2 separate regions of the Homo sapiens genome follow, and region 2 is linked to region 1. A link means that fine-mapping ties the variant in region 1 to the expression of a gene that starts in the linked region. Tissue or cell type: whole blood. Region 1 holds a variant in brackets; the other region holds the start of a gene. All regions are shown on one strand. Distances are between the middles of the regions.

The links. PIP is the estimated chance that this variant, and not a neighbour inherited with it, causes the effect.
Region 2: SLC25A29 starts here. The variant in region 1 is fine-mapped to the expression of SLC25A29 in whole blood (INTERVAL, PIP above 0.99).

The regions. Positions count from the first base shown.
Region 1 is chr14:100,269,144-100,273,143 of GRCh38, reverse strand. All of the region lies in intron 2 of YY1 (YY1 transcription factor), which reads right to left. Among named protein-coding and RNA genes, the nearest start is that of MIR6764, 6.2 kb to the left of the region's middle. The variant C/T (reference allele first, on the strand shown) is at 1,940.
Region 2 is chr14:100,304,380-100,308,938 of GRCh38, reverse strand. It overlaps SLC25A29 (solute carrier family 25 member 29), which reads left to right and starts at 2,495. Exons shown (of 4, transcript NM_001039355.3): 1 at 2,495-2,740. The coding sequence starts at 2,707. MIR345 (microRNA 345) reads right to left here and starts at 1,080; the gene lies at 983-1,080. RefSeq lists enhancers at 1,515-1,684, 1,715-1,784, 2,993-3,559, 3,812-3,871, 3,922-4,001 and silencers at 1,875-1,944, 2,035-2,504, 2,565-2,664.

The DNA.
Region 1 (4,000 bases):
AAAATACAAAAATTAGCCGGGTGTGGTGGCAGATGCCTGTAATCCCAGCTACTTAGGAGGAGGCTGAGGGAGGAGAATTGCTTCAGCCAGAGAGGCGGAGGTTGCCGTGAGCCGGGATCGTGCCACTGCACTCCAGCCTAGGCGGCAAGAAGGAAATACCGTCTCAAAAAAAAAAAAACAAAAAAAAAACAACAAAAAACTAGCTGGGGGCCACTACTCTGAGTGAAGTAACTCAGGAATGGAAAATCAAACGCGGTATGTCCTCACTTATAAGTGGGAACTAAGCTATGAGGATACAAGTGATATAATGGACTTTGGGGACTTAGTAGGGAAAGAATGGTGTGGGATAAAAGACTACATACCGGATACAGTGTACACTGCTCTGGCGAGGGGTGCACTCGGACCTCAGAATTCATCAATATAGAATTCATCCATGTAACCAAAAACCACTTATACACCAAAAGCTATTGAAATTTTTTAAAAAGTCAAAGTCGAAAAAAAAAAAGCCCACCTAAGTGAATCCTTAAAAGCAAGAGCTAATTTACCACCACTCTTTTGTTACAAAAAAAATACTCCTTAAAAAAAAATTAATTCTGTGATCTTTTAAGTTTGTGAAGGCCCTAACAATGTCCTTCTTCACTTATAATCTGGGAAAAGGATGACCTGATCTGTAACCTGAACACATGAAATCATTGGTTAAACTTTCCAGCCCTAGGAGTATATGAGGAACAACAGATCTGGTAACTATCACTTATCTCCATGGAGTTGGTCCGATACTATACATATTTGTTATTTTAAATTCTACGAGAACATTTTCTCTTTTCCTTTTCTTTCTTTTTTTTTTTTTTGAGACAGAGTCTCACTCTGTCACCCAGGCTGGAGTGCAGTGGCGCTATCTCGGCTCACTGCAAGCTCCGCCTCCCAGGTTCATGCCATTCTCCTGTCTCAGCCTCCTGAGTAGCTGGGACTACAGGCGCCCGCCACCATGCCCGGCTAATTTTTTTGTATTTTTGTAGAGATGGGGTTTCACCATGTTAGCCAGGATGGTCTTGATCTCCTGACCTCGTGATCCGCCCACCCACGAGAACATTTTCAATTCAGTGTCCTCCCCCTTCCCAACCCTGTAGATATTCGTCCTTTCTCGTAAATGGATTATAGATTGAGCATCCCTAACATCCAAAATCCAAAATCTGAAACTATCTGAGTGCTAACATGATGCACTCGTGTGATAGGGTCACAGTGAAAACTTTGTTTCGTGTACAAAATTATTTAAAATACTGTATAACAGCCTGGGCAAGAAAGCAACACCCCGTCTCTAAAAAAAATAAAAAGTTAGCCAGGCGTGGTGGCACATGCCTACAGTCCCAGCTACTTGGGAGGCTGAGGAGGTAGAATCCTTTCAGCCCAGGAATTTGAGGCTGCGATCCAACTTCGGTGACAGAACGAGACCTTGTTTCAAAAAAAAAAAAGTACAGAATTGCCTTCAGGCTATGTGTATAAGGTGTAATGAAACACAAATGAATTTCAAATTTCGTATTTAAACCCGAGTCCTAGCCTTAAGATAACTCATTATGCATATGCAAAACCCCAAAATCCAAAGTGCTACTGTTCCTAAGCATTTTGAATAAAGGATGCTCAACCTGTAATACCAGTTAGCAAGTTTTTTTAAGTGCCTGTTGTAAACAGGACTCTGAACTAGCCTTTCTTATCTTAAATACAAATAAATCCTGGAGTTCTGGCCTGAGTTCACAAAATCAGGTAGAACAAAAGTTTGGTGCCACTGCGCCACCTTGAGGTTACATCAGTTTGGAAAATAACAGTGATTGATATGAAAGGTCTCTATTCCACTCAAACATTATTTATTTTTAATTTAATTTAATTAATTTATTTATTTTTTGAGGCAGAGTCTCGCTCTGTCGCCCAGGCTGGAGTGCAGTGG[C/T]GCAATCTCAGCTCACTGCAAGCTCTGCCTCCCAGGTTCATGCCATTCTCCTGCCTCAGCCTCCCGAGTAGTTGGGACTACAGGTGTCCGCCACTATGCCCGGCTAATATTTTGTATTTTTAGCAGAGACGGGGTTTCTTACCGTGTTAGCCAGGATGGTCTCGATCTCCTGACCTCGTGATCCGCCTGCCTTGGCCTCCCAAAGTGCGGGGATTACAGGCGTGAGCCACCGCGCCCAGCCTATTTTTTTTTTTTAAGTTTTAATGTTCCCAATTAAGAGTGAACACTTATTCTTTGAAAATTCTACTGAAACATTGTTTTATTTTGTTTTTGTAGAGATGTGGTTTCACCATGTTGCCCAGACTATTCTCAACTCCTGAGCTCAAGCAATCCACCTGCCTAGGACTCCTTGGAAACATTCTGTGTTGAGTGTGAAGATGGCTACATGACTGTTTGTCCAAATTCACAGAATAGTACATACATACCTAAAAGGGGGGTAGACTTTACCATATGCAAATTAAATCTTAGTAAACATGGCTTAGTAAGGTCCTCTCTCATACATTTTCTTTTCTTTTCTTTTTTGAGATGGAGTTTCACTCTTTTGCCCAGGCTGGAGTGAAGTGGTTTGATCTTGGCTCACTGCAACCTCCGCCTCCTGGGTTCAAGCGATTCTCCTGCCTCAGCCTCCTGAGTAGCTGGGATTACAGGCGCGTGCCACCATGCCTGGCTATTTTTTTTTTTTTTTTTTGTATTTTTAGTAGAGACGGGGTTTCACCATGTTGGTCAGGCTGGTCTGGAACTCTTGACCTCAGGTGATCCACCTACCTCGGCCTCCCAAAGTGCTAGGATTACAGGCATGAGCCACGGCACCCGGCCTCCCATACATTTTGCTAGAGTTATTCCTAGTAACTTAATTTTTTTTTTTTTTTTTTTTTTTTTTTTGAGACAGAGTCTTGCTCTGTCGCCCAGGCTGGAGTGCAGTGGTGCAATCTTGGCTCACTGCAAGCTCCGCCTCCCAGGTTCAGGCCATTCTCCTGCCTCAGCCTCCTGAGTAGCTGGGACTACAGGCGCCTGCCACCACACCAGGCTAATTTTTTTGTATTTTTAGTAGAGACGGGGTTTTACCGTGCTAGCCAGGATGGTCTCGATCTCCTGACCTCGTGATCCACCTGCCTCAGCCTCGCAAAGTGCTGGGATTACAGGCATGAGCCACCGCGCCTGGCCACTTAATTTTTTAAAAGATATTTTATCATGGAAATTTTCAAATACGCCCCCAAAGTAAAGAGAACAGTCTCAGGTACCATTTACCCAACTCTTGGTTTGTTATTATAAGTGGTATTATTTTTTCTTAAAATGTCATTTTCAAAATGTGTGCTAGTATTTAGAAATATATTTAATTTTAGAATGAGAGTTTAAAATGCATTTGGACAAATACCCTTGGACTTAAGGAGTAAGTGGAAGATTTAAATGCAGCCACTCTTAAGCTCCTTGGCAAATCATCCTCCTTCACACAGAGTGGCAAATGCAGCAGTATACGTTGGTACTTTTAAGATTTTATTTGAATGCCAACAATGAAAAAAGTCATTTTTCAAAAATATACTTAGGTTAAAACAGTGTTTCATTTTGCGAGTAAACAGTAAAAATCATATACTACCACTGAGAACATCTTCTCACCCTCCTCAACTATTCAGAAGTAACTAAGATTTAAGTCTTCCATTCACCAACGGACACTTTTGAACCCAGAGAGTCCTTTTGAACCTGGAGACAATGATGACAACAGCATAGACATTATGAATGAGGCAGTATGGGATGTGTGACTTGGAGGTGACTTCTACTAGCTGCATGACCTTGAGCAAACTGTAACTTCTCGGCCTCGGTTTCTTATTCTGTAAAAAGGTATAATGCTACCTACTTAAGAGCTGTATGTTAAGCACCTGGGAAATGATAGCTCTTATTACCATTGGCTATGTGTGAAATGGGTCTAGCTAAAAATGAGTTCATTCTTAACCACCCTTCGATAAAGGACTGAGAAACTGGAGAAAGCATGGCACTAGGAGGAAC
Region 2 (4,559 bases), 36 kb before region 1:
TCCCCCGACCACACACACACACCCAGAACCCTGCCCTCTCCTTGCAAAGTGCACAGCTAAGGGCCCGCACTCCTCATCTCCCAGGCCTGGCACGATCCCACTGCTGCCCTCACACGGCCTGCCTCAGCTCTCTCAACAAAGGACCCTCCCTGCAAGGAGGTTTTTCTTTTTGAAATAGGGTCTTGCTCTGTCATCCAGGCTGGTGCACAATGGTTCGATCATAGCTCACTGCAGCCTTGACCTCCTGGGCTCAAGCGACCCTCCTGCCTCGGCCTCCTGAGTAGCTAGGACTACAGGCCTGCAGGCATGCGCCACCACATCCTGCCGATTTTTTTTTTTTTTAGAGATGGGGCCTCACTATGTTGCCCAGGCTGGCCTCAAACTCCTGGCTTCAAGCGATCCTCCTGCCTCAGCCTCCCAAAGTGCCTGGATTACAGGCATGAGCCACTGAACCCAGCCTCAAGGAGGTTTCTGAAGCTCAACTATGGAATACCTACTGTTTACCAGGCTACTAGGCCCCTTCCCAAGGACCCCAGGGACTGACAGCTCAGTGCAACCTGCCCCAAGCATAATTTTCAAGGCATGTGCATTCTCTCAATAACAAAGCAAAACAGGTCATGCTTGTCTCCTTATCCGTTTCCATCATTTTCTCACTACTGCCACATGCTGTCAAGGTACTGGATTTCCCTCCCAAACCTCCTCAACCAGGAATGGATGTGCAGGGATTTGTGCTTTACCTCATGAGCCCTCCAGCATCCCAAGGACATCCTGTTCCTAAGGTAAGTGACTACATGTAGGTAGTCCAGTGTAATCACTGTGTCTGCAGGAGGCCTCCAGCCACCTGAGTAGCCCCACAGCCAGCTCCTGCCCTTTTGGGTCTGGGCTTCTCTTGGGGCCCCCATACCACTGCTTTTCTGGCCCATGGGCCACTCTCCCCCATCCGCACACCTGCCTCCCTGAGGCAACCAAGTGGGTCAGAGAGGCTGTCGATATTCAAACCCAGGCCTCCAGACCCCTCGTTCAGGGCCCACCAGCCATCACGAGCCCTGGACTAGGAGTCAGCAGACCTAGGGTTTGGGTCTCTGCTTAACATTCTACTTAGACTCTAAAAGGAAACTAACATGAGCACTGGGGACCCCTGCCCCTAGCACCAGGCTGCACTACTGACAACACCTACCTGTGTGTCCTAGTACCAAATACACAGAACCTTTCGACCTGCACCTCCAGGAGGTAGGTACCCACTGGAATTTGGATAAAAGAACCATGTGACCCTAAACCTGGAAACGTGGCACACGGTGTGGCCTTGCCTGCCTGCAGGCCCTAAAGAAGGAAGCTGGGCCCGGCCTAAGGCTGATCTGACTCCTACAGCGAAGAGAAAGCGCCTGGCCCGTCCCTGCTCCCAGGCTCCAACCTGACAGTCTGGACCTCCAGAGGCGCTGGGGAAGGGCTGGTGGGAAGTCACCGAATGGGACGCTCCACAGGGACCAGGGCAGTCCCTTGCCACTGCGAATGTCAGGGACTCCTGGGGGGCCGAGTCAGACTCGGCTCTCATTCATCCCCGCAGCCCATGGATACCCTGGTGACCCAGAGCCAAGCACCCTCCGACTTCAGCGCCTGAGCGCGGCCCCTACCGAGCCCCTCCGGTCTCGCCCCGTCCGGCCGCCGCTGACGGAGGCGCTGCGATCTGGCCCGACTCCACTCTGCAGCCCAGTCCAGGAACCTCCCTCTCTCCACAACCTTCCGCGGCTCCCGCGACCCGCAGTCCTCGGGAAGGAGCTGTGGCCCGAAGGCCTGCTGCGCCCTTTGCCCATGGCCCCTTTCCCTTTTAAGGTTCCCTGCTCTCCGCCCAAATCCCAGCCTCAGGCTCCGCAGGAAGCGCCCGTGCGCGTCCGACCCCCAGAACCCGGCGGGTTCGGCCAGGAGTCCGGAAGCCCCGGAGGCCACCGCCGCCGCGGGCGCGCAGGCGGGACGGGCAGAGGCTCCCCACGGGCGATTCCCGCTCGCGGAGTTTCGCAACTAGCGGCGTCCCAGTCTGCGGGCCTCGGAACGTCCCGGCGCTCCACGGCCGTTTTCGCGGCAGGGTCCGCACGGCACAGACTAGGGCGCTGAGGTTCTGCGGCGGCGCCGGACTCCGAACCCAGGGTCCGGTTCCCGACCCGGTCCAGACCAGAGCCACCCCGCGTACTCCGGGTGGGGGAGTCCTCGGCTCAACCCCGCCACCCCGCGCGTCCCCTCCCGCCGGACCTGCGCACCCAGCGCGCTCTTTGTCTGAGGCGTCCCCGCGCCCCGCCCGCGCGCCCACCACGTCCCCCGCGCCCCGCCTCCCGCGCACGCCCGGCCAATGAGGCGCGGCGGCGAAGCGCAGTGCCCGGGGTGTTGTCCGCGCCGTGCCCGCCCATTGGCCTCACTCGGCGCCCCCACCCGGGCCCTGCCGGCAGGCACGAGGGGCGGGGCGCGCGGCCCGAGGTGAGGGACCGCGGGCCGGAGGGGATCCAGCGAGTCAGCTGCCGCCGAGGGACCAGCGCGGGTCTAGCTGCTGCCGCCATCCCCACCATCCCTGACCGCGCCTGCCCGGGCTCCGCGCCAGGAGGAGCGGCCAGGCCCAGCCCCGGCACCGCGCGCTCGGGGACCCCGACGGCGCCCAGCCCGGCGAGGGGCCTCAGGGGGAGGACGAGGAGGAAAGGCGGCCTCGCCGGGGACCCGGCCATGGCGCTGGACTTCTTGGCTGGATGCGCGGGGGGTAAGGAGGCGGCGGGCCGGGCCGGGCCGGGGCGAGGCGTCCGGGGAGGGAGGTCGGCCCACCAGCACGCCCTGGCCTCGCGGCTTCCCGCTGGCGGGGGTCGCCGCGTCTGTGAATGGGGACCACAGTTCTCTTGCCTCGGGCGGGTCTCGTGGGCGTAAATTGACTTCAGGCCCGGGCTGTCCGCGAGGGCAGGTGTCTTTATTCTCTCTGGGCACGCTCGGACGGGAGGTCTGGGGCGCCGGGGCAGCACCGTGGCTGAGCGGAGGCCAGGACTGCCGGGAGGATGCCCCACTGCCCCCCGCGCCGAGGTCCCGGGCTCATCTCCTTCCCCTCCCCCATCCCCATCCGTTGCGCACTGGGAGCAGGGTCCCCTCCCCCGGCCGTATATTTCGGGACTGACTCCACCCCGTCCCGCGCAGCCATCCAGCGGGGTTGGGGCTACGGAGCCGACCCCCTACTCGGCTGGCCTTGGAGGGCACTGAACCACTCTGGCGCCGAGTCACGCCTTGGAACGCCGCCCCTTCCTACGCGGTTTTGTGAGCTGTTGGGGGCGGAAGGGGGGTGGTGGGTGGGTCGGGCGAGCCGGTGTGGGGCACCTTCTCCGAGGCGCGGTCGCGGCTCTGGGGTTCCTCCCATGCAGTTGTCCCCGGGAGGGCCCGGGCGGGCGTGCAGTCCAGGCTCTCCCATGCCCCGACCGTGGGCGTCGGGCACGGCACTTCCCTGTTGGGCCTCTGGCTTCTCTGCTTTTACCTTGAGGGTTAATTTATTCACCAGGATTTAGATGTCGGGGGCGGGGGAGGGTGGTTGGCGGCGGGAGTTGCTGAGAGGGCCGGCCGCTTATCCCTGTTTGGTCCCACTTTTCTCCCAGCACCTGCCCTTGTTCACCGCCTCTTCATCTACTTGGATTTGGCTCGAATAAACCCTCAGCTCCCGGCCAGCGCTGAGAGCCCTGGCGGAAGAGTGGGTAGCGGTGGCCTTAAGTATTAAATCTGTGGCGTCGGAGCCTGCTTCTTGGGGGAGAGACTCGTTGAAAAGGGAGTGTGTTGGGGAGGTGTTGTGCGCTGAGGGGAGTTAGAACTTCCCGGTCGGTTACCCAGTGGGAAGCTGCGGGGCACAAAGCCCAGAATTTGCTGCTAATCGCTGGGTGCCCTGGAGACAGAGGGGGCGTGTCCTCTGCGGATTCCATTCTCACCTTCCCCTCCCGCTTCTGATCTCGCTGTTTGCTCCACCCTTGCTCCCCACCCACTATCAGCTCCAGCGGGTGGGGGTGAAGGGCTGTCCCCAGGCCAACACCTCCTTCCAGGCTTTGGGGAGTGGGGATTCTTTCCCCGGATGGGCAGAGTTCCTTCTGCAGTGGCGCTACCGTCCGTGCTGCCCTCCTGGAAACACCGGGGTTTGGGGCAGGAACACTTCACCTGAAAGCAGGCCTGCTTGGCGCCTCCCGGCACATCTGTGGTCTCCTCTGCACGTCGCTCGCGCAGCCTCCTTGCCTGGAATGTCCTTCGCTGCCCATCCTCATAGGCCCACCTGGGAGAGATCATATCCATGCCCCCTGCCCCAGGTTTGTGGGTCAAGGACTGGCACTGTCTGGTGCTGTAGCACTGGGGCACAGGCCACCCCCCTGCCCCCAGGCCCTGCTTTTCGTGCAACCCCCAGGCACATAATGGCCACCCAGCTAAGGCTCTACAAGCGTAAGCCTGAGCCTCCCAGGTGGACAAGGACAGAAGTCACCTGGGGGCTCACTCCTGGTCTCATCGGAGAAACCTAGGCCCAGAGAGGTGGGGGTACTAAAGCAAAGTCACACCACATGCTCCTC